Regions from separate parts of the Homo sapiens genome. Here all the other regions are linked to region 1. Evidence: fine-mapped QTL for protein levels in blood plasma. A gene starts in region 1. Each other region holds a variant in brackets. All regions are shown on one strand. Distances are from middle to middle.

Region 1 (8,125 bases):
AGATTTTACTTACATTACATAAACTTGAAACAGCATTTGACTAGTCTTTTTTCCTGATAAAGTGTTCAAGTGCTTTTATTTTCTTAAGCCAATTAGAGCTCTTTTATTTATTTTCAGTAGTGAAACACTGTGCACACCACCCATAAATACATAGACATATCAGGCATGCCTATAGAAGTACATCTTACAGATTTATAAAAACCTTTTTTTTTCCTATTTTAATCTTTCAGATTCTTTTTGTTTGTTTTTGAGATGGAGTCTCGCTCTGTCACCTAGGCCGGAGTGCAGTGGTGCAATCTTGGCTCACTGCAACCTCTGCCTCCCAAATTGAAACAATTCTTCTGCTTCAGCCTCCCGAGTAGCTGGGATTACAGGTGCCTGCCACCATCCTCAGTTAATTTTTCTATTTTTAGTAGAGACGGGGTTTCACCAGGTTGGCCAGGAAGGTCTCAAACACCTGACCTCAAGAGTTATCAAATTCTTGATAACCTCTTTCACAACCCTAGGCAGTTGACAGCTAAATAGCCTTAAATTTGCATATTAAAGGAAACAGTTCAGATGAAAGTCAAACAGCAAAATTTACATTATAAGGTGCGCCAAGAAAAGTCTGGTGTTCTAGAGGGAAATTAAAACAGATTTAATTGCCAATTAAACATAAAAGTATGGAAATTATAAAGGCCTTTTAAACACACACACACACACACACACCTTGTAGCTTTTACTTCAGAACTTTTAGCCATGAAATAAATACAAATTCACCTGGCTTGCAAAAAGAACTTGTTGGATCTAAACAGTGGTTTTTCTCTTAATAGAAAAATAACAGCAGATTGCCGGGCGCGGTGGCTCACGCCTGTAATCCCAGCACTGTGGGAGGCCAAAGTGGGCGGATCACGAGGTCAGGAGTTCCAGACCAGACTGGCCAACATGGTGAAACCCCATCTCTACTAAAAATACAAAAAATTAGCTGGGTGTGGTGGCAGGCACCTATAATCCCAGCTACTCAGGAGGCTGAGGCAGGAGAATGACTTGAACCCGGGAGGCAGAAGTTGCAGTGAGATGAGATTGTGCCATTGCACTCCAGGCTGGGCAACAGAGTGAGACTCCATCGAAAGGAAGGGAGGGAGGAAGGAAGGAAGGAAGGAGGGAAGGAAGGAAGGAAGGAAGATTTAGAGCAGGCAGAAAAGAAAAATAGAGAAAAAGATGACTTAGGAATTCTATAGTTTGCAGGTCAACCTTAGGGCTCTTTTTCCTTAATGTAAATGTGCACAAAGACCACGTTATTTCCATTTTACATAAACTTTGTCAGGTAGAGGTGCCATAAAAGCTACGGAGTGCTCAAAAGGGGGTCATTTTCTTTGTTTTCTCCTCATTCTGAAACCACCTTTGCAAAATTATGACTGAGACAGTGAAAGAGATCTAACTTAAGTGACTCCATCTTGTTTCTAACCTCCAAGCTGTCCTTGTTCATTCCTAGGCGTAAGCTGAACTAACTTTGGGAGAAACTTAGTTTATAGTTTAAACAAAGACAGTAACAGCCCTTTCCCAAAGCTGACTTCATTCTTGCCTGGGGACTAGATTGCCTTTGTAGGACTAACATTAGCCACAAGATTAGAAATTATGGTTTAGGAGTCACGCAGCTGGAGGCTACAAGATCCTGATCCTCCCTAAACTACTCCTAAGATCAGTGCTTGAGATATTTTGCTGACCCTGCACTTGATGGATCAGCTGGCCCCACCCAGATCAATAAACTGGCTCATCTGATCTTGTGGCCCTCACCCAGTAATTGACTGGGTGCACGAAGACAGCTCTGAGTCCCTATGATTTCATCTCTGACCAATCATCACCCCTGGCTCACTGGCTTCCCCCCACCCACCAAGTTATCTTCAAAAACTCTGCTCCCTGCTGGGCATGGTAGCTCATGCCTGTAATCCCAGCACTTTGGGAGACTGAGGCAGGTGGATCACTTGAGGTCAGGAGTTCAAGACCAGCCTGACCAACATGGTGAAACCCCATATCTACTAAAAATACAAAATTAGCCGAGCATGGTGGCACATGCCTGTAATCCCAGCTACTCGAGAGGCCGAGGCAGGAGAATCACTTGAACCCAGGAGGCGGAGGTTGCAGTGAGCCAAGATCATGCCATTGCACTCCAACCTGGGCAACAAGAGCGAAACTCTGTCTCAACAGCAACAACAACTCTAAAACTCTAGTCTCCTGCACCTGCACAGCCGGCTCTGCATGAAATACTCTTTCTCCACTGCAATTCCCCTGTCTTGATGAATCGGCTCTATCTAGGTAGTGGGCAAGGTGAACCCCTTCAGTGGTTACATCCTGAGGGCTGTGTCACAGGCCATGGTTGCTCATATTTGGCTCAGAATAAATCTATTCAAATATTGTACAGAGTTTGACTCTTTTCATTGACAGGTACTTAATTTTTGCTTTCCTTTTAGAAGCACATACAGTGTCAAAGTTCTCTTTGCTACACTTCATTTGTAATGGAAAAAACTCCAGCCTTTTTTCTTTGCAAGCTTGGCTGAGACCAACTAGGGACAGGGCTGATGGTTTTCACAGCTCCCTTCATGGAGAGAAATCACTCCTCTGATTCCTTTGCCAGTCTCCATCTTGACTTGTGAGAAGGGAATAGTGATTCCCTTCTCTGTGGCTCACCTCACAGAGGTCCTGGGGGTGGGGAGCAGGTAGAGAAAAGAGAAGGAAGGATCAGAGTGAACTCATAGGAAAAAGTGCTTTCAAACATTGAGTTCTATAAAAGAGAGGGGGGATAGTGTTCTTTCATCAATGGTATTTCTGCATCGCTGGAACCAAATTGGTTTTTCTCATTTTGAGAGTCTCCTGGTTGTTCCTCCAGCTATTTCTCTACATTCCACACCCCAGGGATGTAAAGGTGAGAGGAAGGGGGTCATATTACATGGCTGGGCACCCACCATGTGCCAGGCACTTCCGAAGGTGTTCCACGTGCATTGTCTTAATCATGACCTCAGGAAGTAGGAGGCGTTATCCCCCTAAGATAAATAAGGAAAGTGAGGTTCAGGGAGCTTCACTTTCAATAATGTGTCTGAGGCCACGTAGCTCCAGTAAATGCTGAATTTTGAAGCCAGCTTGGTCTGGATCAAAGCTGTGCTTGAGGCTGGGCACAGTGGCTCACACCTGTAATCCCAACACTTTAGGAGGCCGAGGTGGGAAGATTGCTTGAGCCCACGAGTTTTAGACCTGGGAGGCTTAGGGGGAAGATTGCTTGATCTCAGGAGGTGGAGGCTGCAGTGAGCCAAGATGGCACAACTGCACTTCGGCCTAGGTGACAGAGTGAGACCTTGTCTCAAAAAATTAAATTAAATTAAATTAAAAGCTGTGCTTGAGGCCTGGGCCTCTCAGTGGAGCTGTCTTCTACCTCCTGGGATGGAGAGGGGAAGGGCAGGGGCCTCTGGCTGCCATGACTAGTCCTTCAGGAAAAGCTGCTCTGTTCCCATGCCTGAGCAAACTCAGGCAGCTGTGCCCTTCCCAGCTTCCTGAGGCCCCTGCTCCATCTGAGGCTCATGAGACCTCTTCATTCTCAGCCAGGACTAGCGACTGCTCACGCGCGCACGTGGCCTTGGGTAGGGGGCAGCGTGAGTGGAAACCTTAACTAAAGGGGTGAGTATCTGATGCTGGAATTGCAGATAGTAAGTGAGGTAGAAAGGAAAGGGGAGAGAGGCATTTAGGAAGGGCCTCCTAAGGGCCCTTGAGTCAGGCCTGCAGGCAGCCCCTGGTGTGAGGGCAGGGGGAGGGTGCCAAAGTGAAAGCACACACACCCTGGCCTGCTGGGGGTTGCAGAACTGTCAGCCCCAGGGATCTGGGCATGGCCTGGAATCCCCCGAGGAGACTGAAGGAAGGTTGAGGGGTGGGAGGCTAGGATCCTCGTCCCTGGAGTCTGACACTGCTAGACACCTGGGCTTGGGTGGGCCAAAGGCAAGGCCTGACTATAGTGAGGCAGAGAGGCCCCAAGTACACAGAATGTAAGCAGGCACTCACACCATAGGTGCCTCTCTTGCCTTGGATTCGTCCAGGCACTGCCCAGGAGCTCAAGACACAAGGGCAGCCACCCTTACCCACTGCTTATGTGGCATATGGGAATATACAATATAAATATATTCTTATAATTGTATATAATAATGTTTATATATATGTAACACATAAATGTGTATTAATTCAACCCTCACAACTCTTTAAATTATCCTTAGTTGACAGATAAGATGAAAGGCAGAATAGTTGGAACAGATAGTAAGTTTGCCTCACTAATAACTTGTACACAGTCCATACTCTTAACCACGATGCAACACAATTATCACCAACACACACACACACACACACACACACACACACACACACACGAAAAAGGCCACCAGGTACTCACCCAGTTTCCTTATCAGGAACCGCCCCACAGCAGATTGGCCACAGCTGTGCCTCTGCCCACGGCCAGCCCTGTGGGATGCAGGTGGATCTCGTGAGGTCAGGGCCCCTTTTATAGCCCCATCACCACAGCTGGCTCTGTCTCCCGCCACCCACACCAGCTGTCCCACTCACCATGGAGAAGATCCTGATCCTCCTGCTTGTCGCCCTCTCTGTGGCCTATGCAGCTCCTGGCCCCCGGGGGATCATTATCAACCTGGTAAGAGGGTCTTCAGGGGAGGCGCCTCCTGAGTCCCCAGATGAAGACTTCCTAAGCTTGGACCTTGACCTCTGATGTCTCCACCTGGACTGGCAGGGGCTGGGAGGAGTGGCATCTTGCATCCCTCTGTTTACTTCCATGTCCTGTCCTATGCCTCTTCCCAGAGGCCACAGGAAAGGCTGATCAGCCCCTCTCCAGCTCCAACTGGAGCATGCTCAGAGCAGCAGCTCAACCTGGCTATGAGGGACCTTTTTTTTCTTTTTTTTCTTTTTGAAACGGAGTCTTGCTCTGTCACCAGGCTGGAGTGTAGTGGCACAATCTCGGCTCACTGCAATCTCTGCTTCCCGGGTTCAAATGATTCTCCTGCCTCAGCCTCCCAAGAAGCTGGGATTACAGGTGCCTGCCATAACGCTCAGCTATTTTTTGTATTTTTAGTAGAAATAGGGTTTCACCATGTTGCCCAGGCTAGTCTCAAACTCCTGACCTCGTGATCCGCCCACCTCGGCCTCCCAAAGTGCTGGGATTACAGGCATGAGCCACCTCACCTGGCCCTACGAGGGAGCTTTGTAAAAATCCAGAGCCCTGGGCTTCCATCCTGAGAAAATGCTTTGCGCCAATCATTCCAGCTTCTGACTTATGGAGATGCCTCGGAGATGTTTACTCATTCTGTTCTCATAATAACCACTGAGGGAGGTGTTTTCAGAGTCAGCCCTGTCTTCAGACAGAGAGAGGGTGAGCAACCTGCCTGAGGTCACATAGCTGGAAAGTGGTTCAGCTGGGGCCCCACCACTGCCCCACACCACCTCTCCACCATGGGTCTTGGCTGGGAAAGCCCTTCCAGAACGTCCATGCGGTTGAAAGGTTCTGAACTCTCTTAACTTGGGGCCATGGCTGGACTTGGAGGTCCAGGACCCTTGGAGATTATAGATCAGATCTGTTGGGGGAGGAAGGAGTCTTGCAGGGAGATGCAATCTTCACCGCCTCCTTAAAGAGGTGTGGGACCCAGAGTGGTTTGGAGAACTTGTCTAGGGGCCTTGTGTGCACATTCCAAATGGGAACACTGAGGCTTGGGAGGCAGTGACTTGCCCAGAGTCACACAGGAGGTTGGTAGCACAGCCGGTACTAGAACCCAGGGGTCCTGACCCTCTGTGCAAGTCTGCTTCTCTGTCACCGCATGCCCACTTCTCACGTGGGTGGGGGGCACAGAGGCCACCAGACCCAGGGGATGGACTCCTTCACACACATCCCTACCAGGGGAGACACTGTTAGTGGTAGTGTGTGGTGGGTACAGGTCTGAATGGAGAAGGGACCTGAGGGAGTGGGGCCTGGGCTGACTGGCTGCTCCTGGCAGGAGAACGGTGAGCTCTGCATGAATAGTGCCCAGTGTAAGAGCAATTGCTGCCAGCATTCAAGTGCGCTGGGCCTGGCCCGCTGCACATCCATGGCCAGCGAGAACAGCGAGTGCTCTGTCAAGGTGGGTGCCTGAGGACTTGGCGTGGGTGGGGGAGAATGGGGAGTAGGGCCCTGAACACTTGTGAGTGGGATCAGGGAGGGGGGTCAGCCTGGACACTGAATGTTGAGGAGACGAGAGGGAGGTCGACAGGTGTCAAAGCACTTTCCCATCCCATCATCTCTCTTGACCCTCCCGAGTGACCAGTGAGATGGGTGGGGGTGGGGATTTGTTATCCCCATTTCATGGCTGGGTAAATAGAGGCTCCCCAGAGAGATCAAGCTAGTAAGAGCAAATGAGCCAGAGCAGAGGTCAGAGCTGGGGTCTCCAGGGCCCACGGCACCCCTGGGGAGGCAGGTGGGAGAGGCACTCCCCGAAAACACAGGCTGGCCTACTGGTTCTCTAGGTCAGGCAGGGGACAAGTGATGTCCAAAGTATCTCCCCATAGCCTTGACTCCATTGGCTGTGTCTCTGCAGACGCTCTATGGGATTTACTACAAGTGTCCCTGTGAGCGTGGCCTGACCTGTGAGGGAGACAAGACCATCGTGGGCTCCATCACCAACACCAACTTTGGCATCTGCCATGACGCTGGACGCTCCAAGCAGTGAGACTGCCCACCCACTCCCACACCTAGCCCAGAATGCTGTAGGCCACTAGGCGCAGGGGCATCTCTCCCCTGCTCCAGCGCATCTCCCGGGCTGGCCACCTCCTTGACCAGCATATCTGTTTTCTGATTGCGCTCTTCACAATTAAAGGCCTCCTGCAAACCTTTCCCAGTCTCCTGCATATTCTTTCTGACTCAGCATCTTCTCTGAAGTTGCATCAGGCCTTTGGTCCACCAGGGCAGGCTTCAGGCAGGTCAGAAGAACAAGGGATGGGTCTGGGGCTGAAGAAGTTGTGGCCAAACAGATTGGAGACTGAAGACAAAGCTGTGAAGGAGACCCAGCCAGCCTAGGAAACCCTCCATTTCTGGGGAGAAGTCACACCTACCTGGGATGCCCTCCTTGTCCCTCCGGTTCTCAAAGAGACAAGCGGGCACATGTGCATGCGCGCGCACATACACACACACACACACACACACACACACACACACTTGTGGGTAAGGAGTTTTAATGGCCCATGTTCGTCACCCTGCATCAGAGGCATCAGAATCCTGGGCTCTCACCTCTTTTCTGGACACAATTCTCAAATATGACAGCTAGCTGACACAACTCATGTGTTAAGGGGTCAGACCACTCTCAATTGCTATGAGCTTACTCTCTGCCAGCAAATGCTCACAAGGATCCCAGGAGGGAGAATTTCTCATCTCCACTTTATAGATAGAGACCAAGTTTCAGAGAGGAGCTTGCCCAATGTCACATAATCAGAAAATGTTGGCACTCTACCATCTAACTCCACTGCCCTGCTTCTATGATTCCTTTTTTTTTTTTTTTCTGAAACAGAGTCTCTCTCTGTTGCCCAGACTGGAGTGCAGCGGAGTGATCTCTTGGCTCACTGCAACCTCCACCTCCCAGGTTCAAGCGATTCTCCTGCCCCAGCCTCCCCTAGTAGCTGGGATTACAGGCGCCTACCACCACGCCCGGCTAATTTTTGTGTTTTTAGTAGAGACGGGGTTTCATCGTGTTGGCCAGGCTGGTCTCAAACTCCTGACCCCAGGTGATCCACCACCTCAGCCTCCCAAAGTGCTGGGATTACAGGTATGAGCCACCGTGCCCGGCCTTATGATTCCTTTTTCTTTCCCAATTATTCGCATTAAGAAAAATGGGTGGAAACTGCAAGGAATTTAATTTTGCCTTAATATAAAAATTGTATATCCCCTGGAGCCATCAAACATGAGTTACCTTAGGCAGTACTGAGGTGCCCATCATCCAGGTACGCAGGTGGAAGCTCACTGACCCCTCGGTGGAGATGCTAGAGAGGAGATTCCCACAGAGAGTGAGGGACAGTGAACTGAATGAAACTTCGATGTCGTCCCAGCCCCAGGATCTTGCAGTTCTGTGATCAATGAATC
Region 2 (8,139 bases), 13 kb after region 1:
TTATTGAAAAGACTATCCTTTCCCCAAGGTGTCTTCTTGGTGCCCTTGTTGAAACTTAATTGGCTGTACAGGCTTGGGTTTATTTCTGGGCTCTGTATTCTCCCCTTCCCCTTCTAACTTCTTGACATTGGGTATCCTTGGGAACTTCTTAGACATTGGGTATCATTGGGTTTCCAGCCTGCCACCTCTCCTTCCACGGTCATTTCATAGGTTTTCTCTGAATGGGGAGAGCTCACATAACACAATGGAAGTCTGGTTATCTGTCTGATACATTTAGTACAGGACAGCATATTCTACCAAGGTATGGTTCACATCGTTTTGCTATGACTTACAAGGGGGCGTTCTAAGTACAACCATAGTTTACCTCCAAACTCCCCAGCCCTTGCATCCTAAGCCCAACATCCTGGAGGGCATGTTTGGCTCAGTTCTGGTGGCTGAATGTGGAAATTTAGGTCCAAAATCTGAAATAATTAACTCCAAAATGTAACCTGAATATAACAGGCACTACTCACAGACAAGCGAGCTAGCATCTAACTCCAAAAGCCTCACCACACACTGAGACTTCCTAAAACTCCACTTGACTCATTCTCTCTCCAACCCCACACCACAGTCGCTGCTCCAGTCTTTCTTTCTCACTCTTTCCTAGGCTCTCCTTCCTTCCTTCCTTCCTTCTTTTCTTGTCCCTCTTTTCTCTTGCCTCCCAGAAGATTCAGATTCAGCACTTTCCAACTGTGTGACCTTGAACAAGTTGCTCAACCCGTTTCCCTACCTGTAAAACAGAGGTGATAACAGGAGAGACCCCACAGGTTTGTTGCAGGATTAAATGAGATCATGTGCATAAGGCAGCTAGAGCGGCCCCTAACATCTAGTAAGTGCTCAATAAACATCCTCAATTCTTTATACACATGGATATTTTGTGTACCTTCTTTCACATTTCTGAAATTTAAGGTCGTGGAACTGGAATATCAGGTGTAAACTGGGCTTCCGGGGGGTAGATTACAGAGTGGGCTGAAGGCAGAAAGGGGTTGGGGTGGGAAGGGAGCTTTGGTCTCTTCTGGGGGACTTTCATTCATGCCCCAACTGGGGAAAGACCCCAAGTCCAACAGTGTCCCTTCCTGCTTCCTCCCTCATATCACCTCCCCACCCCCCAGAAACCTGTACCATGCCCACCCCAGCCCAGCCCACCCAGGCCCCAACTCTGTGGGCAGCAAACATTGAAAAAGCTCTTTATTTCAATCACTCCCCACTTCCCTCCACTCATGGTGGAGGCTCTGGGGAACAGGGTGAACACAGAGCTCTGGGTAGGGAGGAGAGCAGGTGGAGGAGGAGGAGGCAGCAAGAAGGAGGGAGCACTAGAAGAACATTTTCTTAGCCAACTTCTGCCTTCCAATTTTCTGACAACGGCCATAGGCGATGCTAAGCCATTTCTCATTCTTTGAATATATACAAGTCAGGTTCCGCAGGCAGGGACACGCTCTATATTGGCCAAAGAACACCTGGGAAAGACAGGACTTTGACCTCGACCTTGGCGGCAGCTCTTCCCTGAGCCCCTAAGCCCAGCCCAGCCCAGCTCCAGGGCCCATGTGCTTGCCCACAGCCAGGATCCAGGGATAAATGATAGCTTGCCAGCTGCTCAGAGTGGCACCTCTGGCTGCCTTCTCCAGGCTGGCTCCTGGATTGTTCAGTGTCCTCCCAGCTCCAGACCTTGTAACCCTGCCTGTCACTGACCCATCTGCCTGTCCTAAGTCCATGGACACACCATCGCAGGACCTCTATGTCTTGTCTTTAAATCCTTCCATGGGCAAATCAACTCCCTCCCCTACACACCCAGCTCAGAGGCTGCCTCTGCCCATCCTCCACCAGGAACACCCGGGGCCACAGCAGAACTCCTGAGCTGGATGAAGACGGGGCTCTGGGGCAGAGGCTGGACCTAGCTGTGCCCATTTACTGTACTACTTTCGGAATTTGCTGAGAAGACTCCTGGAGAATGTGAACCCACATTAGAAAGTGAAACATCGCCTTCCCGCCCCAATCCAGGATTCCAAAACCCTAGGGTGGGCTACCATATTGGTTCCGTCCACAGGCTCCCCCAGAAGGCTTGGAGGTGCAGTCCCACGGGGGAATTCCAGGCTCCAGGGCATTTCCGCCCACCTACCCTTCTTTCCTCCCCAGGAATCTGGGCCCGCCCTGGCTCCCACTTCCCCTGGATCCCCTCTGGCTCCCCCCGGGCGGCGATACCCACCTGCGTTTGACACAGACTGCCCTCGGACCCCTTCTCCGCGCAGTGCGACTCGCAATTGTCTGGAGCACGTTGGCAGCAGCCAGTCTCGCAGTCCTGGTTCCGGATGCAAGACTCCTTGAGCTCCTGCAGGGAGGGACACGGCACCGCCAGGCTCCACCGCCCGCCTTCCGCCCTCGCCGCCCCGCCTGGGGCTTTCTCCCTACGGGGCTCCTCCCCAGACTCTGCTCCCACCATCACCTCTGGCTCCTGCCAGGCAGGGTGGTCTCTACGTGGGGGCCGGGGTAAGTCTGTGCAGACGGTGGATGCCTGGAGGGGACTGAACAGTTTTTAAAAGGTTTACTCTTGGTGTCCTCAACATAGGCTGCTTCTCATACACACCAGAGTGGTCTAGACTTTCCTGTCTCTCTCTTGCACTTCATTCTGCTGCAGAGCCTTCTCGCCCCAAAACTCATACTCACCCTTTCACCTGTGCCTGATGGTCACCTACATGCATTCCCACCGCCCCTCCCCCTACACACATCAATGACCTCCACCCAGCACTGGGGCTTAGGACAGTAATTAACATTATTGATCACAGCCACCCATCATCTCTGACAATTTCAATAGTCATTCAACAGGCAAATACTGAGCACCTACTGTGTGCCAGGCACTGTTCCAGGCACTGGGAATACAGCTGGGAACAACAAAAACAGAAATCCCTGTCCACCTGCAGCTGACATTCCAGAGCAGCACTGTCCAACAGAGCTTCTGCAGTGACGAAAATGTGCTTTTTCTGCCCAGTCCAATAGCCACTAGCCACTACTGAGCACTTGAAATGTGGTAGTGCAACTGAGGAGCTGAATTTAAATTTTCTTTTCTTCTTTTTTTTGAGATGGAGTCTTGCTTCCATCGCGCAGGCTGGTATGCAGTGGCGTGATTTCGGCTCACTGCAACATCCACCTCCTGGGTTCAAGCAATTCTCCCGAGTAGCTGCGATTACAGCCGTGCGCCACCATGCCTGGCTAATTTTTGTATTTTTAGTAGAGACGGGGTTTCGCCATGCTGGCCAGGCTGGTCTCGAACTTCTGACCTCAGGTGATCCACCCGCCTCGGCCTCCCAAAGTGCTAGGATTACAGGCATGAGCCACCGCGCCCAACCCTCTTTCTTTCCTTTCCTTTTTTTTTTTTTTTTTTTGACAAAGTCTCACTCTGTCACCCAGGCTGGAGTGCAGTGGTGCAATTATAGCTCACTGTAGCCTCAACCTCTAGGTTCAAGCAATCCTCCTGGCTCAGCCTCCCGTGTAGCTGGGACCACAGGCACACACCACCATGCCCAGCTAATTTTTTTATTTTTTGTAGAGATGTTACAGGTAGTTAGACAGGCATGAGTGGGGTAGGAGAGGGCTCTCCCCCACCCACCAGGAATGTCAGGTGATGGTTCAACAGTTATCACATTGCCTCTCTAAAAATGATAATTTGGCAGTTAGGCTCCAGGGAGAGACAGGCTTCTAATGGTCCACAGCTGTTAACATTAAAGTGTCCATTGAAAGCAGGGGCCAGAGAGAAGCAAAAAGGGCTTCCAATAAAATCTCAGGTGTTGGGTGAGTGAGCCCGGGGAATGCACATTAAGAGAAAAAATGGAGGAGTATGAATTTCCGGGGACAGGGCCAGGCATGGTGGCTCACGCCTGT[A/G]ATCCCAGCACTTTGGGAGGCCGAGGCGGGCAGATCACGAGGTCAGGAGATCGAGACCATCCTGGCTAACACGGTGAAACCCCGTCTCTACTAAAAATACAAAAAATTAGCTGGGCGTGGTGGCGGGTGCCTGTAGTCCCAGCTACTTGGGAGGCTGAGGCAGGAGAATGGCGTGAACCCGGGAGGTGGAGCTTGCAGTTAGCTGAGATTGCACCACTGCACTCCAGCCTGGGTGACAAAGCGAGACTCTGTCTCAAAAAAAAAAAAAAAAAAAAATTTCCAGGGGCACACTCCACAGGAAAAGGGAACAAAGCCTCAGATGGGCATGCGTACAACTTCCTAAACACCCTGCATGTGCTCACTTCCCAAGGGTAAGGAGGACACTGCGCATGTGGTCAGCTCACCCTAAGGGAAGAATCAGGGGAGAGAGGCACACGACACTGGAGGTAGGCAAGACTGTTAAGGGGTAGGACCAAGGTTAAACACTGCACTTGCCCTTCAAGTTGCCCACTTGGGACTCTTCCAAGTGTACTTTCCATTCTTTCCTGCTCTAAAGCTTTTTAATAAACTTCCACTCCTGCTCTGAAACCTGCCTCAGTCTCTTTTTCTGCTTTATGCCCCTCAGTTGAATTCTTTCTTCTGAGGAGGCAAGAATTGAGGTTGCTGTAAATGCATACAGATTCATTGCCAATAACTCAGATACCTTCCACCAGTAAGAGACAGGAGTCTTGCTTTGTTGCCCAGGTTGGTCTCGAACCTCTGGGCTCAGACAATCCTCCCACCTTGGCCTCCCAAAATGTTGGGATTACAGCCATGAACCACCACACCTGGCTTGAATTTTAAATTTTGTTGAATTTTAATCAATGTAAATCTAAGTAACTATATGTGGCTAGTGTAAACCAAAAATAAAATTTGAAGCCTCCCACCACCACCAATCCACAGCCATCTCAGTCGACTCCTTCCTTGGCCAGGGCACTCTAAAATTTAACCTGAAAGACTGGTTCAGGCCATGACGGGAAGTGGGGGTTGGACATGCCTCATTAATACCCCTCCAGCATTAACATTAACAAAGACCTTAAGTCTGATCAGAAACATGTACAATCTATTTTCTATGAAGCCTATTACTGGAGGCTTCATCTGCATGATAAAACCTTGCTCTCCTCAACCCCTTATCTTAACCCAGACATTCCCTTCTGCTGATAATAGCTGTTCAACCAACTGCCAATCAGAATTTGTTTAAATCTACCTATGACCTGGAATGGAAGTCATGCCCCCCACTTCAAGTTGTCCCACCCTTCCAGATCAAACGAATGTAAATCTTACAGGTACTGACTGACATATTATGTCTCCCCAATGTGTATAAAAGCAAGCTATACCCCAAAAAACAAAAAACAAAAAAAAAGCAAGGTGCACCCCAGCCACCTGAGGCTGTATCACAGGTGTGTCCCTAACCTTGGCAAAATAAACTTTCTAAATTGACTGAGACCTGTCTCAGATATTTTGGGTTCACACTAGTAACTGCACTATTGGACACACACAGCTCTAGAGAGGGAAGACAGGGAAGAGATACATAAGTGAAATGATACGGTATCACAGAAAAAACGTTGAGCAAAATAAGTCAGATTTTTTTTTTTTTTTTTTTTTGGAGATAGAGTCTCGCCGTCGCCCAGGCTGGAATGCAGTGGTGCGATCTCGGCTCACTGCAAGCTGTGCCTCCCAGGTTCACGCCATTCTCCTGCCTCAGCCTCCTGAGTAGCTGGGATTACAGGCACCCGCCACCACGCACAGCTAATTTTTTTTGTATTTTTAGTAGAGACAGGGTTTCACTGTGTTAGCCAGGATGGTCTTGATCTCCTGACCTCGTGATCTGCCTGCCTCGGCCTCCCAAAATGCTGGGATTACAGGCATGAGCCACCGCGCCCAGCCCCCCTTTTTTTTTTTGAGACAAAGTCTCACTCTACTGCCCAGGCTGGAGTGCAATGGCACTTTCTTGGCTTAGTTCAACCTCTGCCTCCCGGGTTCAAGCAATTCTCCTGCCTCAGCCTCCCAAGTAGCTGGGATTATAGGCATGTGCCACCACACCCAGCTAATTTTGTATTTTTAGTAGAGATGGGCTTTCACCATGTTGGTCAGGCTGTTCTCGAACTCTTGACGTCAGGTGATCCACTTGCCTCGGCCTTCCAAAGTGTTAGGATTACAGGCGTGAGCCACTGCGCCTGGCCCAAATTTTTTTTTAAAAGTACATACTGTGTGATTTCATCATACAAAGTTCAAAACTAATCTATAATAATGGAAGTCAGGAGACAGTTGCCTTTGGTGCTATTGACTAGGAGAGTAAGAGTGAGGCTTTTGGGGTAATGAAAATGTCCTATATCTTGTTCTGACGGTAGTGATGAGGGGGTCTGCATAGGTTCGAATCCATTGATTTCCATGTAAACTCAAGATCTGAGCACCTAGTAAGGTGTGATTTTTACCACATATGTTATATACATAACAATAAGTAATATTTATATTATATATGTATAATCCTATTATGTACGATTATGTGCTATAAAGAAAATAAGGCAGGAAAGGAGGATTGGCTATAGCCGCCTCCCGGCCTCCCTGCTTCCATCCTTGCCAGTGACCTCCCCCAGGTACCCCCTCACCATCCCCACTCTCACTTCCACCTCCCCAACCTCCTCAAGTCAGTTCTTCCCAGAATAGCTAGAGGAGTCTTTTTTAAAAGATAATTCCCACAATGCCATTCTCTGGATTCAAAGCCATCACTGGGGCTCTGAATCCACACCTGGCCTGGCCCCAGGGCATTTGCGCTTGCTGGCCCTCTGCCCAGAGCACCCTGTCCTGCACTCTTTGCCCGGCTGCCTCCCCCTCCTGCCTCAGGCTGAAGACTTCCTGGACACCAGCAGAGCAGTCCCCATCACCTGGTTGTACTTTGTTCACAACACTTATGACTCTCTGAAATCATCTTATTTATATGTTTAAAAATAATTTATTTCCCCCGCTAGCAACCTCAGCTCTGGGACATGGATCTTCTGCTCTCACGTTCACTGCTATATTTCTTAGCCCCCTTGGACTAAAGTCCTTACACATTGCAGGTGCTGAATGCATAACTGTTGAATAAATGAGAATATTGTAACTGTGTTCCATTTATCTCTCTGAGCTCATCTCCCATGATTTCCACTCTCTCTTACTCCTCTTTGCTATTCCTTGAATATGCCAGCACATTTCCGCCCCCAGACCTTTGCCCTGGCTGTTCCCTCCACCTTGAATGCTCTTCTCCCAGAGACCCCCCTGCTTTGCCGGTTAGGAAGGACTTCCCTCCCTTTAGGTCTTTGCTAAAATTTCACATTCTTAGTAAACTCTTCCCTGAGCACCCCATTTAAAACTGCAAACCCTGGCCAGGTGCGGTGGCTTACGCCTGTAATCCTAGCACTTTGGGAGGCCAAGGCGGGTGGATTGCTTGAGGTCAGGAGTTCAAGACCAGCCTGACCAATACGGTGAAACCCTGTCTCTACTAAAAATACAGAAAAAAAAATTAGCTGGGCGTGGCAGTGGGTGCCTGTAATCTCAGCTACTCGGGAGGCTGAGGCAGGGGAATCGCTTGAACTCAGGAGGCTAAGTTTGCAGTGAGCCGAGATTGCCCCACTGCACTCCAGCCTGGGTGACAAAGCAAGACTCTGTCCCAAAAAAAAGAAAAAGAAAAAGAAAAAAAAAAAAAACACCTGCAAACCCTTCTCACACCACCACTCCCACAGCTCGATTCTTATTTTCCCTTTCCTTGCTTATCACCTGAGATAGATGCTATTATTAATAGCATCTATTGTAATGTTTTACTTCTTTGCCTCACACACTAGAGTGACAGCTCTACAAGGGCAAGGATTTTTATCTTTCTTGCTCACAGCCCTATCACTAAATGTAGAAAAATAATTTACATATAGTAGGTGCTCAATAAAAATGTGTTGCATGAGTGAATATCTGTCTCCCTTACCACATGTGCGCATGGGCAGGGGGGCTCTCTCACATTCACCTCTGTGGCAGCAGCACCTGGCACTGCCCTGGCACAGCTTCCAGGACCAGGTTGTTCTCTCTTTCCTCCGAGACATCTTCCACCCAACACTCCCTGCTGCCCCCACTTCTGGCCTTCTCCCACACTAGCCCCCATGCCCGCTCACCTCCCCAAATAGTACAGGCCTTAGGACAGTGGAGGGGGAGGTGACTGCACTC
Region 3 (8,000 bases), 13 kb before region 1:
AGGTCGCACTCCCTCCCCAGCAACTCATCTGCTGTTGTTCCCCATCTCCACCAACAAACTTCCAGGAATATTACTTCGAGACCCCGCCTCAGTGCCTCCTTCTAGGGGAGACCACACTTAGCCCCCAAGGCTGGATTGCAGCTCTCTCCCCTATAGCCTCTGAGAGTGTAGAGGGGTGAGGGGGACATTCCTTTATCACAGATCGCCTTATCACCTGCTAGCTTGCAACCCTCCACTGGCCTTTGATTTCAGGGAGGACAAGGGGTGTGTCTGATTAGTCTTGGTGTCCCCATCCCTTGGCCAGGGACCAAGCCTTAGAGGACTGGCTAAGATGAACCCCCACCCACATCCCAGGGTCTCCAGGCAGGGGACACCATTGTGGAGTTGGGTGATTACCGGTTCCATCTGCCTTGTAGTCGTCAGGGAGGAGCTTGTCCTGCCGGTAGCCCAACACGAAGGCCAGGAAGGAGAGGATGAGGGCGTCGCCAATGCTGAGGATGGCCAGCATGAAGGCCCAGCGGATGGTGCAGTGGCCCAGCGTGTACTTGCCCGTCTGCTCCCCACACATGCGCCGCACCTCACTTGAGTCCCAACCATCAGGGTAGACCAGGCAGCCAATCATTAGGCCTGTGGCTGAGGGGGAAGGAGGGGTGCACATGGCATCAGGCCGAGTGTGCCTAGCCCGCTACCTCCCACACCTTGCACTGCTGTTATGTTGTCACCTCCCTTCTCCTTCTGTTAACAGCCTCAGGAGGCATGAGAGGCAGCCTCTACCATCCTTCTTGCAGAACACAGGTGAGAAAACTGAGGCTCTGAGAGTTAAAGCAACTGGCCCCCGAGACCCAGTAGTTGGGGCGGAGGCAGAGCTGAGCTCCTAAGCCCAGGCCGGCTCTGCCACCACACCAGGTGGTCCTCCCAGGCCTTCAGCCATTCTCCTCACCTTGGACTCAACCAGGCACCACCTACCCTGGCTTCAAAGCCCTCCGGTATCTAGTCCCAGCCCAAAGAACTCATCACTGCTGAGATGTACATTTCTTCGTACTTACAACATCTGTGAAATAAGCTCAATAAGAAAGTGTCTAGCCTGGGGGTGGTGGCTCACACCTGTAATCCCAGCACTTTGGGAGGTCGAGGCGGGCAGATCACCTGAGGTTGGGAGTTTGAGACCAGCCTGACCAACATGGAGAAACCCTGTTCTCTACTAAAAATACAAAATTAGCAGGGAGTGGTGGTACATGCCTGTGATCCCAGCTACTGGGGAGGCTGAGGCAGGAGAGTAGCTTGAACCCTGCAGGCAGAGGTTGCGGTGAGCTGAGATCACACCATTGCACTCCAGCCTGAGCAACAAGAGCGAAACTCCGTCTCAAAAAAAAAAAAAAAAAAAAAGGAAAAGGAAAAAGAAAGTGTCAGGCCATGGCCAGATTATCAGTATATTTTGTTTTTATGGTACATAGAATAACAGTGTGTCCTACAACTCAGGTATCTTAGATTTAATGTATACAGGAAGGCTTTCCAGACTGTCCCTGGCTGCTTCCTTCAAAAGCCTTCCATTCAAGCAAACAGGTTTCCTCCTCACTCTTACCCAGTACAGCATAGTCCAGTTGCTACACGTCCCTAAATTTAAGAATCCCCTGGAGGCCGGGTGCGGTGGCTCACGCCTGTAATCCCAGGACTTTGGGAGGTCGAGGTGGACGGATTACAAAGTCAGGAGATCGAGACCATCCTGGCTAACACGGTGAAACCCCGTCTCTCCTAAAAATACAAAAATTAGCCGGGCATGATGGTGGGCGCCTGTAGTCCCAGCTACTCGGGAGGCTGAGGCAGGAGAATGGTGTGAACCTGGGAGGCGGAGCTACAGTGAGCCGAGATGGCGCCCCTGCACTCCAGCCTGGGCAACAGACCAAGACTCCATCTCAAAAAAAAAAAAAAAAAAAAAAAATGCTAGTTCCTAGGTCATGGTTGGGTTCAATAATCCCTGTTTTCAAAAGCACTCTTCCAGGTGATTTTCTCAGTAGGAAAAGCTGGGAAACACTAGACTAGGCTGCCTGGATTTCAAACCCAGTTCTCTGCTACCTAGCTATGTGACTCAGAGCAAGCAACTTAAGCTTTCTTTTCTTTTTTTTTGAGACAGAGTCTTGCTCTGTCGCCCAGGCTGGAGTGCAGTGGCACGATCTCGGCTCACTGCAACACCCGCCTCCCGGATTCAAGTGATTCTCCTGCCTCACCCTCCTGAGTAGCTGGGATTACAGGCATGTACCACCATGCCCGGCTAATTTTTGTATTTTTCATAGAGACGGGGTTTTGCCACGTTGGCCAGGTTGGTCTTGAACTCCTGGGTTCAAGTGATCCGCCGGCCTTGGCCTCCCAAAGTGCTGGGATTACAGGCGTGAGCCACCGTGCCCAGCCATACTTAAGCTTTGTTTGCCTCAGTTTCCTCATCTACAAAATGGACATAATAATAACCCTAACCTTCCTGTTGTGGTTACAGCAAGGTTCAAATGAGTTAATACTGGAAAAGAGTGTAGAACAGTGCCTGGCACAGACTTGGCACTCCATAAGAGTTGACTGTGAGAGTTATTATCACACCCTGTGCCTTACTTGACTTATTATTTACAGCTAAAAATTCTGTTGCCCCCACTTTCCCCCCACTTCTTCCATCCCTTTCCATCAAACCATCCCCTCACCTTAGCTTTGCTGGGGTGAAGCAGAGACAGGTGACATAATCCAGGATGCAACTGGGGCAGCCAGCCCCAGGCACAGCTGCCCCACGGGCAGGGGGTGCTCCCCTTATCTGTGCCACTTTCCCACAGGTCTGGAGGCTCTCTAGTCCCAAGGTTGTACCCTACTCAGGAGACCCTCAGAAAAGCACCTCTTCAGGCCTAAAGTTACCTTCCCTGCTTCCAGCTTGTTCTACAAAGAAGGTCAGGAGGTCAAACAAATGCACAGTAAATGGAAAAATCAGGGTCCCACCTCCCCACCTAAATGTATCACGCTTCCTTTGATCTTTTTTAGGAGAAGCTTATTTAGATAGTTCTTTATAGATCACAAAATACTTCATGTACCATCTTGACTGTGATCACCTTTCTGTGAAGTGGGCTGGCTATTAATATCCTCATTTTACAGATTAGAAAACTGAGGGCTCAAAGAAACCAAGTGACTTACCAGCCATCCAGTCATCCAGCTATGACAGGGCCAAGGCCTGAGTTCTCCATTCCTGACTTTCCTGACTTCAAAGTTTATTCCCTCCACCCCCAGAACATGACATCTCTCCCAGGGGCTGAATGTAATTAGCGGTGACATTTCAGACTTCCTACGTGTTCAGTGAAAACTAAGTGTTCAGGAAGATACCCACGGTGGAGGAGAGGGAGCCATCCACAGCTCCGTGGTGAAACCTACGTAGCCAGCCCTTCCCCGACTTGATGTGAGTCCAGCCCTCCAGTGCCTGGCAGGGCCCCTGGCTTCATGGGCAGAGGTGAAGGTGGGAAGGAGCTGCCCTTCCAGGCTTTGCATTCTCTCCATCACTTCCTCCCGTGGCCCCTCCCCTCCTGCACCATCTTCCTGTGGGGGCTCCGGAAAAAAGCCCAGGGCCTCTGACCTGGAAACAGGGTGTTGGTGCCACAGTCCCCTGCGAGCACTCTACCCATCCACCCACGGTTCTGGGGACAGTGGGTGTCAGCCCCAGTTGTGGCATCTCAAGGCTCTAAGCAGAAGCCAGCACAGTGTTCTCAGGCCAGGTTACTTACCCTCTCTGACTTCCGTCCTGTTGTCTGTAAAGTATCTGACTCATAGCAGCACT[G/A]TGAGGATTAAGTGTGATCATTTACAGAAAACGCTTACTATGATGTCTTGTACATGGAAAGTGGCCAATTAATGTTAGTCACTGCTATTATTATTGACATTGGAGTCAGACAGAAGCCACCTCAGTGACATGGATGCCATTAGAGCTGCTCACGAATATTCCAGGTGCAAGGCAAGGTTGTACTTCCTTGCTCCGCTCTCTTGAGGTTAAGTGAGGCCATCTGCCTTCCTCTGGCCAATGACATGTGAGCAGAGATGTGTGTATTTCCGGGCCACAGCACTTAGCTGCAGTGGGAGACCTCCCAGAGTTCCCTTCCCTCTGATGCGAGGACAGCTGATGGTGACTGATGCCACTAGCGAGGGTCCCAGGAGACAACAGTGAGAGCGGAGCCCCCACCGATCCCCGGTTGGCACGGACCATAAGCAAGAAATACATAAACCGTTGTTCTAAGCCACCAAGATTTGGGAGTGGTTTGTTACTACGGCATCACTTCTCATGCTCACTGATATAGTTGTTTCTTGTGTTTTTCTTTTCTTTCTTTTTTTTTTTTTTTTTTGAGACGGAGTCTCACTCTGTCGCCCAGGCTGGAGTGCAGTGGCGCGATCTTGGCTCACTGCAAGCTCTGCCTCCTGGGTTCACGCCATTCTCCTGCCTCAGCCTCCCAAGTAGCTGGGACTACAGGCGCCCGCCACCAAGCCCAGCTAATTTTTTATTTTTGTATTTTTTTGTATTTTTTGGGGGGATTATCCCCTGCCCACAGGGCAGCTGTGCCTGGGACTTTCCCAGTTGCATCCTGGATTATGTCACCTGTCTAATTTTTTTGTATTTTTTTGTAACACGGGGTGTCACTGTGTTAGCCAGGATGGTCTCGATCTCCTGACATCATGATCCACCCACCTCGGCCTCCCAAAATGCTGGGATTACAGGCTTGAGCCACCATGCCCAGCCTGTTTTTTGTGTTTTTCACAGGTACTGAGCACTTACCATGTGCAAGGTGTTTTACATGCATTCTATTATCCCATCTTCACAGAACCCCCCTGAAGTGGGTACTGCTGCTATGTTCTACAGATGGGGTACAGTGGAATGTTTGTTCCTCCCAGATTTCCTGTGTTGAAATCCTAACCTCCAGTGTGATGGTGTTAGGAGGTGGGGCCTTTGGGAGGTGATTAGGTCATGAGGGTAGGGCCCTCCACGAATGGGATTGGAACCCTTATAAAAGGGACCCCAGAGGGGAGCGGGGGCAGCTAAAGGTTGGTTAATGGATACAAAAGTATAGCTAGACAGGAGGAGTAAGCTCTAGTGTTCTTTAGCACTGTAGAGTGAGTATAACCAACAGCAATCTATCGTATATTTTCAAATAGCTGGAACAGCAAATTTGAAATCGTCCCAACTCAAAGAAATGTTTTAAGTGTTTGAGGTGATGGATATGCTAATTACCTTCATTTTCTCAGTAGGAAAAGCTAGGAAACATTAGATCAGGCTGCCTGGATTTCAAGCCCAGCTTGTATACATGTATCGAAATATCACACTGTAGCCCATAAATATGTACAATTATTATGTCAATTAAAAACAATAATAAGGCCGGGTGCGGTGGCTCACGCCTGTAATCCCAGCACTTTGGGAGGCTGAGGCAGGCAGATCGCCTGAGCTCAGGAGTTCCAGACCAGCCTGAGCAACATGGTGAAACCCCATCTCTACAAAAAATACAAAAATTGGCTGGGTGTGCTGGCATGCACCTGTAGTCCCAGCTACTCGGGAGGCTGAGGAGGGAGGATCACTTGAGCCTGGGAGGTCAAGGCTGCAATGAGGTGTGTTCATGCCATTGTACTCCAGCCTGGGTAAAAATAATCATTTTTGAGACCTTGACTCAATAATAATAATCATCAATGCAAATAAATACATAAAAGGGACCTCAGAGAGCCCTGTCATCCTCTTTTCACCATGTGAGGACATCAAGAAGTCAGCAGTCTAGAGCCTAGAAGAGGCCTTCATCAGAGATCTCGTGCTAATGCCATGCCGGCACCCAGATCTCAGACCTCCAGGCTCCAGAACTGTGAGAAATGAATTTCTGTTGTTTTAAGCCCCCTAATCTATGGTAATTTGTTATGGCAGCCCTGACTAAATAGAACTAAGTAAAACTGACTAAGACATGAGGTTACCAAGACTCAGAGAAGACAAGCAGTTTGGTCTACCTGTGTTTCTAGGAGCTGGGACAACTCCCAGCCTACACCTGGCACCCAGAAGCCCAATTAATCTTGTTAAGCTGCAGCCCCACATCGCCCAAGCATCAGTCCTCCTTGCCCCTGCCCCCTCCCTGTTCCCAGGCTTCTTGGCAAGGGTACTAATGAATAGATGTATCTCCCAGCTGCTGGATATGGGACCCGCCCACTCTGCATCTCTCCCTTCGGCTCATTTCCCCTTCCGCAGCACAGCAGAATGGAACATGACACCAGTCTTGCCTTCCCTAACATAAATGTTGCATGAGATGGCACCTGGCCACCTCTGCTATCAGTGTCTCCAGCTTTTCTACCCAGATAGTGTCTGACTCAGATGGCCTGTCAACCCCTCCCCCTCCTGGCACTGCCTGCTCACACATGGCACCTGTTGGGGGATGTTTCAGGGAAGGGGGGTTTGCAGACAGCCCTGAGAATGAGAGAGATGGTTGTGTCTCCAGCATCCCATAACCCTGATAGGGAAGAAGAGCTGGCAAGCATATTAGGGTCTATTTCACTCCTCTTTGGCATAAAACTACTAAATCTTCATTTTCCCTTTGTTCATATATATATATATATATATATATATATATATATATATATATGTATAAAATGAATATATAGTAAAGAATATATATATATATACTCAATATTTTTATTAACCCAGCTAATTTTTGTATTTTTTGTAGAGACACAGTTTCGCCATGTTGCTCAGGCTGGTCTCGAACTCCTGAGCTCAAGCAATCTGCCCACCTCGCCCTCCCAAAGTGCTGGGATTACAGGCCTGAGCCACTGCAGCTGGCCTTATTATTATTTTTATTTATATATATTATTTATTATGATTATTTTTAATTTATATATATATATATATAAAATAGAGATAGGGTCTCACTATGTTGTCCAGGCTGGTCTTGAAGTCTTGAACTTCTGGCCTCAAGCAATCCCCTCTCCTTGGCCTCCCAAAGTGCTAGGACTACAGGCATGAGCCGCTGTGCCTGCCCCCACCATCATTCTTGACATGGCCACCACCTACCTTGCTCCCCACTGCCCACCCCTGCCCCGGCCTCTCTCTTATCATACAGAGAGACTACAGAGAACAGGGAGGTGGCAAGGGGATTTGCTGGGAACTCTGAAGCCATGTGAGTAGCCTGGGTGCAAGATTTGGAATCAAAGGTGCATGCCTTCCTACTTGTATGCTCAAAGACAAGTTACCCACTAGGGGCCTTCTTTGTAAAATAGATAAATACCCACCTCAATGGGTTGTGCTGGGGCTCCTCCAGATATTATATGTAAAGATATTTCATAGATCATTATACTTATGTAAATATGTGGCTCAGTAAAAACATCTTAGGAATACATCTAGTTCCTTGGTCCTCAGTTGCCCGCTTAATTCTTCCTGGTCCTCAGGTGCCTGCTGATCTGCTACAGCCTTGGCCAAGTCTGGTCCTTTCTCTCAGCAGCAGATTCCTCATCTATAGTTGGGGGGTGGATATAGCTCTCTGGGGTCCCCTCCAACTCTGCAGTCTTGAATCTGCATGTTTGGTGGTCTGGGATTCAGATGCCTGTTTCAGTCTCCCTCTTAAAGATGACAGCACTTCTCATTCTGACCAATGAGATGGTTTCACTCTAGTTTCCAGTCCCCGGCACTACTCCTGGACATCTCACCGACATGGACAGTTTGTGGCCCCTGAGGTGTGCAGGGACCAAGGTACCAGAGGCTGCAGCACAAGGTCTTAACCCTCTTCCTGGGCTACAGAGAAGAGCAAGACCACTTGGCACAAGGACCAAGAAGCCTTCCTGAGCTAGAAGCAGGAAAAAGGACCAGGGAGGTTTTGCCTCAAGGCACAAGTAGCTGCCTACCCCACAGTTTTATTTGTTTTATTTTATTTATTATTATTATTATTATTTTTAGAGACAGGGTCTTTCCATCTTGCCCAGTCTAGTCTCAAACTCCTGAGCTCAAGTGATGCTCTCTCCCAAAGTGCTGGGAT
Region 4 (8,139 bases), 51 kb after region 1:
AGGTGCCCGCCACCACATCTGGCTAGTTTTGTATTTTTAGTAGAGACGGGGTTTCTCCGTGTTGGTCAGGCTGGTCTCGAACTCCCGACCTCGGGTGATCCTCCCGCCTCAGCCTCCCAAAGTGCTGGGATTACAGGCGTGAGCCACTCTGCCCGGCTTTCTCAGTGATGATTTCATAGCTCCTCAGAGCCCATCTTTGAGGAATGCATGCAGAACACTGTGGCTTACGTTCGTTAACTCATATAATCCCCCTTTCATTTTCCCAACAGCGTCATGAAATCAGTACTATTATTATATGCATTTTATAGATGAGGGGCCTGAAGCTCAAATAGGGTTAACTGCTCCCCTGAGGTCACACAGTAAGTGACAGAGCTGGGACTGGAAGCGAGCACTCTGATTCCAGAGCTCCCTTTCTGACCCAGTATGCCTGCAGATCTCTGTCATTCATGCTGTCACCAAGGATCAACAGTTCTTCCTTGGACACGTGGAAAGAATGATCTTCCTCATCCCCTTTGGCTAATGAGATGTGAGCAGAAGTGATGACATTTATCACTACCACATTCCCTGTCCTTCTGTAATAGTTGTAGAAACACAATGAGGAAGCCTCCCTCAACCTGGGTCTCTGTGTGAGGATGTTGTGGAGTAGAGGCCTGCCCTTCCACCCCCACCGCTGATCTGCAATGGGCATGCAGTGTAAACAAGAATTAACATTTGCCATGTTTTTTTTTTCTTGAGACGGAGTCTCGCTTTGTCGCCCAGGCTGGAGTGCAGTGGCGCAATCTCGGTTCACTGCAAGCTCCGCCTCCTGGGTTCACGCCATTCTCCTGCCTCAGCCTCCTGAGTAGCTGGGACTACAGGCGCCTGCTACCACGCCCGGCTAATTTTTTGTATTTTTAGTAGAGACGGGATTTCACCGTTTTAGCCAGGATGGTCTCGATCTCCTGACCTCGTGATCTGCCCGCCTCGGCCTCCCAAAGTGCTAGGATTACAGGCGTGAGCCACCGCGCCTGGCCCCCTTTGCCATGTTTAAGCCACTGAGGTGTGAGTGTTGTTACTGTGGGATAGCCTGGCCCATCCTAACTAATCTAATGCTATACTGCGTCCTGTTGATTATCTTTGGCTTCAATCCCCAAGCCTGCCTTCTTCCAACCCCCTGAAAGCAATGGCTCCACATTGATTTGAAAAGCAGCAAGAGCCAGCCTGGCCAACATGCCGAACCCCACCTCTACTAAAAATACAAAAATTAGCTGGGCGTGGTGGCGGGCGCCTGTAGTCCCAGCTACTCGGGAGGCTGAGGCAAGAGAATGGCGTGAACCAGGGAGGCGCAGGTTGCAGTGAGCCAAGATTGTGCCATTGCACTCCAGCCTAGGCAACAGAGCAAGACTCCATCTCAAAAAAAAAAAAAGAAAGAAAAGCAGCAAGAGAAGAGGGGAGCTAGTCCCCCAAACATAGAAGTGGGGATGTGTTTTGAGAGATAAGCCCATGCTGTACCACACTCTGGAGCAGAGGTTATGCTGAATGAAATCTCCACCCAGCCCTGGAAGGCCACCAACAGACATTCGAGCTTCAAGAAACTTCAAGTTTCTCTCCTATACTCATTTATTGGCTCTCCTTAATTTTATTCCGTGTTTTTAAAGTAGGAACGACTGGGCTGGCAGGAGGAGGGCCGGGCTCTCAAGTCCTGGGGATACTGCAGGCTGACAATGACCTTGCAGGCCTGGATCTGAACATCTTCCTCAGGGTGGATGACCAGGGCAAGTAGTCGGTCTGCCAGTCGGGACTCTTCCCCAAAGAGGGATTCATGCAGGGACTGTTCGTTGTAATGCCATTTCACCACGTGGTAGTGGGGTGCGTTCCGGCCCTCACTCAGCCGCTCAGCAAACACCAGTACCTCATACAGGAGACTCCCTGACTGTGTGGGCTGGAACAGGTTTAGGAAGTTGGAGTGAACCTGTGATGGGAATAGAGAAAGAATGGGAATAAACTCCTAGGCAAGTTACAAAATTCTTGTTCTTGTATATTCCTATTGCCTAAACTCCCAAATATACCTAAATTTCAGACTCGAGTATATAGTAATTTTTTAGTTTTTCTTTTATTATTATCCTCTAATTTAATTGCCTTGTGATCATAAAACATGAGTGATATGATAATATTCATTCTGGAAATTTTGTTGAGACAAATTTTAAGGCTTAGTGTGTGACTAATTTTCTTAAGTATTGTGTGTGTGCTTGAGAGGACTGTGCATTTAATCCTTGTAGACTGTTCTGAGTATGTCTAATGGCTCAAGCTTATTTGTGTTATTCACTAAGAGTATATCCTCACTAATTTTGGCTTTTTAATCTATCAGTTGCTGCAAGAATGGTTAAAATATTCCAAATCTCCCACTGTAGTGGTATATTTGTTAATTTCTCCTTTCAATTTTTGTCGTATATATTTTGAGACTATGTTATTAGGTGCATACAAGTTTAGAGTTGCCCTACTGTTCTGGTGAACTGAACCACTGATTATCACAGAGTAACCTTTTCTATCCCTAATAATGCTCTTTGCCATAGTAATTTCCCCCCAATATTAAAATACCTACATTAACTTTTGTTTTGTCTCCTGTGTTCCTAACTCTCAGAGTTCAGGAAATGCCTCAAAGGGGGATCCCCCTCCCAATAAAATGGAGTCTCCTTCTACTGGGGGGAACAGAAGAGGCATGATTTTCAGTGCATTTAGTGCAGAGGCAGGAAGATACTAAAACAATTCATCAGGGGTAAATCTGTCTGGAGATGCCATGATTCTTCCCTCCCCCTATACCTGAGTTGGCATTCATCAGCCCCTCTTCAATTTCTTTCTCACCTGGCAGTTGAGAATGTCATAGAGAAGGTCATTCTTCTGTGCCAGGTAGCTCAGCAGTCGTACGGCTTGCACCTGAATAAAGGAAAGAGTAAAGCATGAGAAGGCAGGTGAGTCTGGGCCTCAGCAAGGAAGATATAAACCTCTGCTCCTCCCTCTAAGTACTGTGCTAGGGCTGGTCAGCAAGGCAGGGCCTTGGCCATGGTCCTCAGGCACCTGTGCCAGGATGTAGTCTGACTGCAGGATCTCCATCAAGGCAGGCATCACCCGTCGCAGCTGTGGATGCACATAGTCGGGCAGTGGAAGGTTGTTGAGGAGTCTGAGGCCCGCAATGTGCAGTTCCGTGTCCCAGATGGTGGAGATCAGTTCGAGTACTTTGATGGAGTGTTCCTGGAGTGGGGGAGAACAAAAGGGCTTACTTTTACAGGTGATCACCACTATCCCAGTATCTGACTTTACTCTTCACTGTCCCCATGGATGTCCCCTGGGCCAAACCCAATAGACAATTCTCCCTAACTCTCAACATAATTTGACCCAGTTGCCCACTCCCACTGCCTTGAAATTCTTTATTTGGCTTTTTTTTTTTTTTTTTTACAGACTTCTTTCCTAGCTATTCTGCCCAACCTCCTCTTTTCTACCTACCTCACTCCCATACCGGTATCATCCAGACTCACAGTGTTAAATACGATCCACATGCTGGTGACTCTCCCCTTTATGTCTCTAGCTCCAGCTATGTTGTCCCTCCCCTGAATCCAGACTCATATATGCAGCTACCAATTCCACTTTTCTCCCCAAATGTCTAATAGAGCTCTCAGAGTTAACACGCTCCCCCATCCCCAGACCTGCTCCTTCTATAGCTTTCCCTGTCTCAGCTATGGGTTACACTTTCCTTCCAGTGGCTCGGGCCAAAAACTGCTGGCATCAACTCCTTTCTTTCTCTCACACTCCTTTTCCAACCCTTCAGAAAATCCTGTAGGCACTACCTTCAAAAATCTATCAAAATTCAAGCCACTTCTCCTCACCCCCACTTCTTACCACCCTCTTTCAAGCCACTGGCATCTCACCGGGATTTCTGCAATAGCCTCCTGTCTCCCTGCTTCCATTCTCACCCCCTGCATCTACTTTCAGAGCAGCTGACATGTTAGACATGTCACTCCTCTGCTCAAGAGCCCCCATTTCATTCAGTGTAAAAGCTAAAGTCCTTACAGTGGCATACGGTCCAATGTGATCTGCCCCTCTCTCCCTATTATGTCTTGGACTCCATCTTCTCTTCTCTCCCTCATGACCAAGGTTCCCATCACAATGGCCTCTTACATATTCCATGAACATGCCAGGTACACACCTGTCTTAGGGTGTTTGCATAGGCTGTGCCCTCTGCTTAGCACACTCTATCCCCAGATACTCACAACTCACTCTCACACCTCCTTTAAGACTTCATTAAAATGTTACCTTCTCAGTAAGGCCTTCTCTAACCACCCCCATCCCAGCCTTCCTTACCACCCTCCACTGTTATTTTATTTTTCTCTACAGCATTGTCACGTGTAACACACATTTTCATTTCTTTAATTTTGTTTTTTAATTTAATTTTATTT[T/A]ATTTTATTTTATTGGAGACCGTCTCACTCTGTTGCCCAGGCTGGAATGCAGTGGTGAGATCTTGGGTCACTGCAACCTCTGCCTCCCAGGTACAAGCGATTCTCCTGCCTCAGCCTCCCAAGTAGCTGGGATTACAGGTGTACGCCACCGTGCTCAACTAATTTTTGTATTTTTAGTAGAGACGGGTTTTCGCCATGTTGGCCAGGCTGGTCTTGAACTCCTGACCTTAGGTAATATGCCCACTTCGGCCTCCCAAAGTGCTGGGTTTACAGGCCTGAGCCTCCGCGCCCGGCCTTTATTTTGAAATGATTATAAATTTACAGGAAGTTGCAAAAATAGTACAGCGAGGTCCCATGTGCTCTTCACCCAGTTCCCCTCAATGGTCACATCTTGCATTATAGTATAATAGCAAAACTAGGAAATTGGTGTTGGTGTAATATGTGTGCATAGTTCTATGTCATTTCAGCACATGCACATATTTGTGTAACCACAACTGCAGCCAACAGATTATCCCACCAGAACTGTCCCATTGCCACAAAGATCTATCTCAAGAGACCCCTTTAGACTCACTCCCACCTGCTCCCCCAGCCCAAAGCCCAGGCAACCACTTGTGTTTTCCATCTCTATATATGACCTTTTAAGTTTGAGGATGTTATATAAATGAAATCACACTTTATGTGATCATTTGAGATCGGCTTTTTTCACTCAGCATAACGCCCTTGAGAACCATCCAAGTTGTTGTGCATATCAATATTATATTCCTTTTTATTACTAAGTAGCATTCCATGGTAATGGCTATACCATTTTGTTTAACCATTCACCGATTGACAGACATTTTTGGTTGTTTCCAGTTTGGGGCTATTCCACATAAAACTGCTATCGACAATCGTGTACTGGTTTTTGTGCAGATATAAGTTTTCATTTCTCTAGGATAAAGGCCCAAGAGTTCAACTGCTGAATTGGTAAATGTATGTTTAGTTCTGAAAGAAATTGCCAAACTATTTTCCAGAGTGGCTGCTGTACCATTTTATATTCCCACCAGCAATATATGAAAGATCCGGTTTTTCTATATCTTTGCCAGCATTTGGTATCGTCACTAATTTTGATTTTAGATCTTCTAATAGGTGCACAGTAATATCTCAGCATGGTCTTCATTGCATTTCCCTAATGGCTGGTGATATTAAACATGGTTTCATGTGCTTATTTGCCATCCATATATCCTCTTCAGTGAAATATCTGTTCATGTATTTTGCCCATTTCCTAATTGGACTGCTTGTTTTAACATCAGGGTTGTTTTTGTTTTTAGACAGAGTCTCACTCTGTTGCCCACGCTGGAGTGCAGTGGTGCGATCTCGGCTCGCTGCAACCTCCACCTCCCAGGTTCAAGTGATTCTCCTTTCTCAGTCCCCTGAGTAGCTAGGATTACAGGTGCCCACCACCATGCCCAGCTAGTTTTTGTATTTTTAGTAGAGATGGGGTTTCACCATGCTGCCCAGGCTGGTCTCAAACCCCTGACCTCGTGATCCCCCATGCCTGGCCTAACATTCAGTTTTGAAAGCACTTGATACAATTTAGCTGAGTCCTTTATCAGATATGTGATTTTCAAATATACTCCCTCAGCCAGGCACAGTGGCTCACGCCTCTAATCCCAGCACTTTGGGAGGTCGAGGTGGGCGGATCAAGAGGTCAAGAGACCGAGACCATCCTGGCCAACATGGTGAAACCCCGTCTCTACTAAAAATACAAAAATCAGCTGGGCATGGTGGTGTACACCTGTAATCCCAGCTACTTGGGAGGGTGAGGCAGGAGAATCGCTTGAACCCGGGAGGCGGAAGTTGCAGTGAGCCGAGATTGTGCCATTGAACTCCAGCCTGGGTGACAGAGCAAGACTCCATCTCAAAACAAAAACAAAAACAAAAACAAATACACTCTCCCAGTCTGCAGCTTTTTTCATTCTCTTAACAGGATCTTTCATGGAGCAAATGTTTTTAATTTTAATAAAGTCCAATGTATTGATTTTCCTTTTATAGATCATGCTTTTGATGTCATGAACTCTTCACCAAGCCCAACATCTCAAAAGATTTTCTTTTTCTTTTTTCTTTTTTTTTTTTTGAGATGGAGTCTCACTCCCATCAAACAGGCTGGAGTGCAATGTGGTGATCTCGGTTCAATGCAACCTCCACCTCCTGGGTTCAAGTGATTCTCCTTCCTCAGCCTCCTGAGTAGCTAGGATTACAGGCCTCCTGGGTTCAAGATTTTCTTCTTGAAAACTGCATCACCCCCACCCAGACTCCTTTATCCACCCCCCGCCTTTTATTTTTCTCCATGGCACTTACCACATGAAACACACTATATATTTTACTTATTTGTGTATTGCTTGCCTTGCCCTGTTAGAATATAAATTCCACAAGCACAGGGATCTTCCCTGTTCTGTTTACTGCTTTCTCTCCTGTACTTAGAGCAGCGTGTTGGCACAAAGTGTTCAATATTACATTTATTGAGTGAATAAAGGGATCTTCGGTTCTAGGATGCAAGATGCGGGCAGGACGCAGTGGCTCACGCCTTTAATCCCAGCACTTTGGGAGGCCAAGGTGGGCAGATCACCTGAGCTTGGGAGTTCAGGATCAGCCTGACCAACATGGAGAAACCCCATCTCCACTACAAAAACAAAAAATCAGCGGAACGTGGTGGCACATGCCTGTAATCCCAGCTACTCGGGAGGCTGAGGCAGGAGAATCACTTGAACCCGGGAGGCGGAGGTTGCGGTGAGCTGAGATCGCGCCATTGCACTCCAGCCTTGGCAACAAGAGCGAAACTCCGTCTCAAAAAAAAAAAAAAAAAGTAAGATGCTTGGACCTAGAGGCATTACCAAAGACAGGTAACCTCACGAGCTGCACCTTTATGAGCCATGTAAGAAGTAAGCAAGAGTCCTGGAGTGGAAGTGAGCATTCCCATCAGTACCTGCCCTTCCCTTCCCCCACCCCTCAAAAGCCGTGGCGACCCGCAGGACAGGTTGGAGTCAGCAAGTCTGGGACAGGGTTTCAGAACGAGGGAACAGCAGCAAGGGGGCATGTGAGAGCATAAAGCATGCATTGTACGTGGCTGGGGTTAGGGCAAGGAGGTGCAGCCCATGGCCAATCACGCACTTTATGCTGAGAGCCTTGAGGCAGACCCAAAGGGCCTGATGGCCTAAGAGCCCTCTGGAGAGAGTGGGCTGATTCAGGGAATGGGGTGAGCTCCATTTTGGATATGTTGGGTTAGAGAACTTGGAGGGCATCTAAGTGGATATGCCTAGTAGCAGCTGCCCATGGGGAAGGCAGGGGAGCCCACAGGCTGCAGAGATCCAGAAGGGCACAGCTAGATGGAAATTGAGATCAAGGAGTAACTACTTTCACCTGAAAAGAGACCAGGGGTCAGGCCCTCAGCATAAAGACACTGGGGAAAAAAAGGAAGAGTGGGACTCAGGCCGCCTGCATCAGAATTTCCTGGGGGATTTGTGAAAAACAAAGTTCTCCTGTTGAACTGAACTCCCTGGGCTTTTTTTTTTTTTTTTTTTTTTTTGAGACAGAGTCTCGTTCTGTGGCCCAGGCTGGAGTGCAGTGGCGTGATCTTGGCTCACTGCAAGCCTCTGCCTCCCGGGTTCAAGTGATTCTCCTGCCTCAGCCTCCCGGATAGCTGGGATTACAGGTGCCCGCCACCACGTCCGGC

Alleles and levels. Positions count from the first base shown, and alleles are read on the strand shown. Strength reflects both the effect of a copy and how common the allele is.
For the plasma level of the protein whose gene starts at base 4,545 in region 1, allele A in region 2 goes with a lower level than allele G (strong association).
In carriers of allele G in region 3, the plasma level of the protein whose gene starts at base 4,545 in region 1 tends to be lower than with A alone (moderate association).
For the plasma level of the protein whose gene starts at base 4,545 in region 1, A is the low allele of the variant in region 4 and T is the other (moderate association).

What was found. PIP is the posterior inclusion probability: the model's chance that the variant is causal. Protein levels are from antibody-based Olink assays in UK Biobank. Linkage for the fine-mapping came from a reference panel and not from the study's own genotypes, which makes the PIPs less certain.
Region 2: its variant is fine-mapped to the plasma level of the CLPS protein (UK Biobank, PIP above 0.99).
Region 3: its variant is fine-mapped to the plasma level of the CLPS protein (UK Biobank, PIP above 0.99).
Region 4: its variant is fine-mapped to the plasma level of the CLPS protein (UK Biobank, PIP above 0.99).

The regions. Positions count from the first base shown.
Region 1 is chr6:35,793,743-35,801,867 of GRCh38, reverse strand. CLPS (colipase) reads left to right here and starts at 4,545. Exons shown (of 3, transcript NM_001832.4): 1 at 4,545-4,663; 2 at 6,015-6,137; 3 at 6,591-6,886. The coding sequence starts at 4,580. The coding sequence ends at 6,722. It also overlaps a transcript of CLPSL1 not described here.
Region 2 is chr6:35,781,224-35,789,362 of GRCh38, reverse strand. CLPSL1 (colipase like 1) reads right to left here. Exons shown (of 3, transcript NM_001010886.5): 2 at 2,243-2,365; 3 at 1,213-1,496. The coding sequence ends at 1,353. Among named protein-coding and RNA genes, the nearest start is that of CLPSL1, 4.3 kb to the right of the region's middle. RefSeq lists an enhancer at 6,732-7,233. The variant A/G (reference allele first, on the strand shown) is at 3,913.
Region 3 is chr6:35,807,179-35,815,178 of GRCh38, reverse strand. LHFPL5 (LHFPL tetraspan subfamily member 5) reads right to left here. Exons shown (of 4, transcript NM_182548.4): 2 at 397-633. Among named protein-coding and RNA genes, the nearest start is that of LHFPL5, 5.8 kb to the right of the region's middle. The variant G/A (reference allele first, on the strand shown) is at 3,797.
Region 4 is chr6:35,742,350-35,750,488 of GRCh38, reverse strand. It overlaps ARMC12 (armadillo repeat containing 12), which reads right to left. Exons shown (of 6, transcript NM_001286574.2): 4 at 3,055-3,228; 5 at 2,842-2,913; 6 at 1,410-1,951. The coding sequence ends at 1,619. Among named protein-coding and RNA genes, the nearest start is that of ARMC12, 9.4 kb to the right of the region's middle. RefSeq lists a silencer at 2,817-3,016. The variant T/A (reference allele first, on the strand shown) is at 4,431.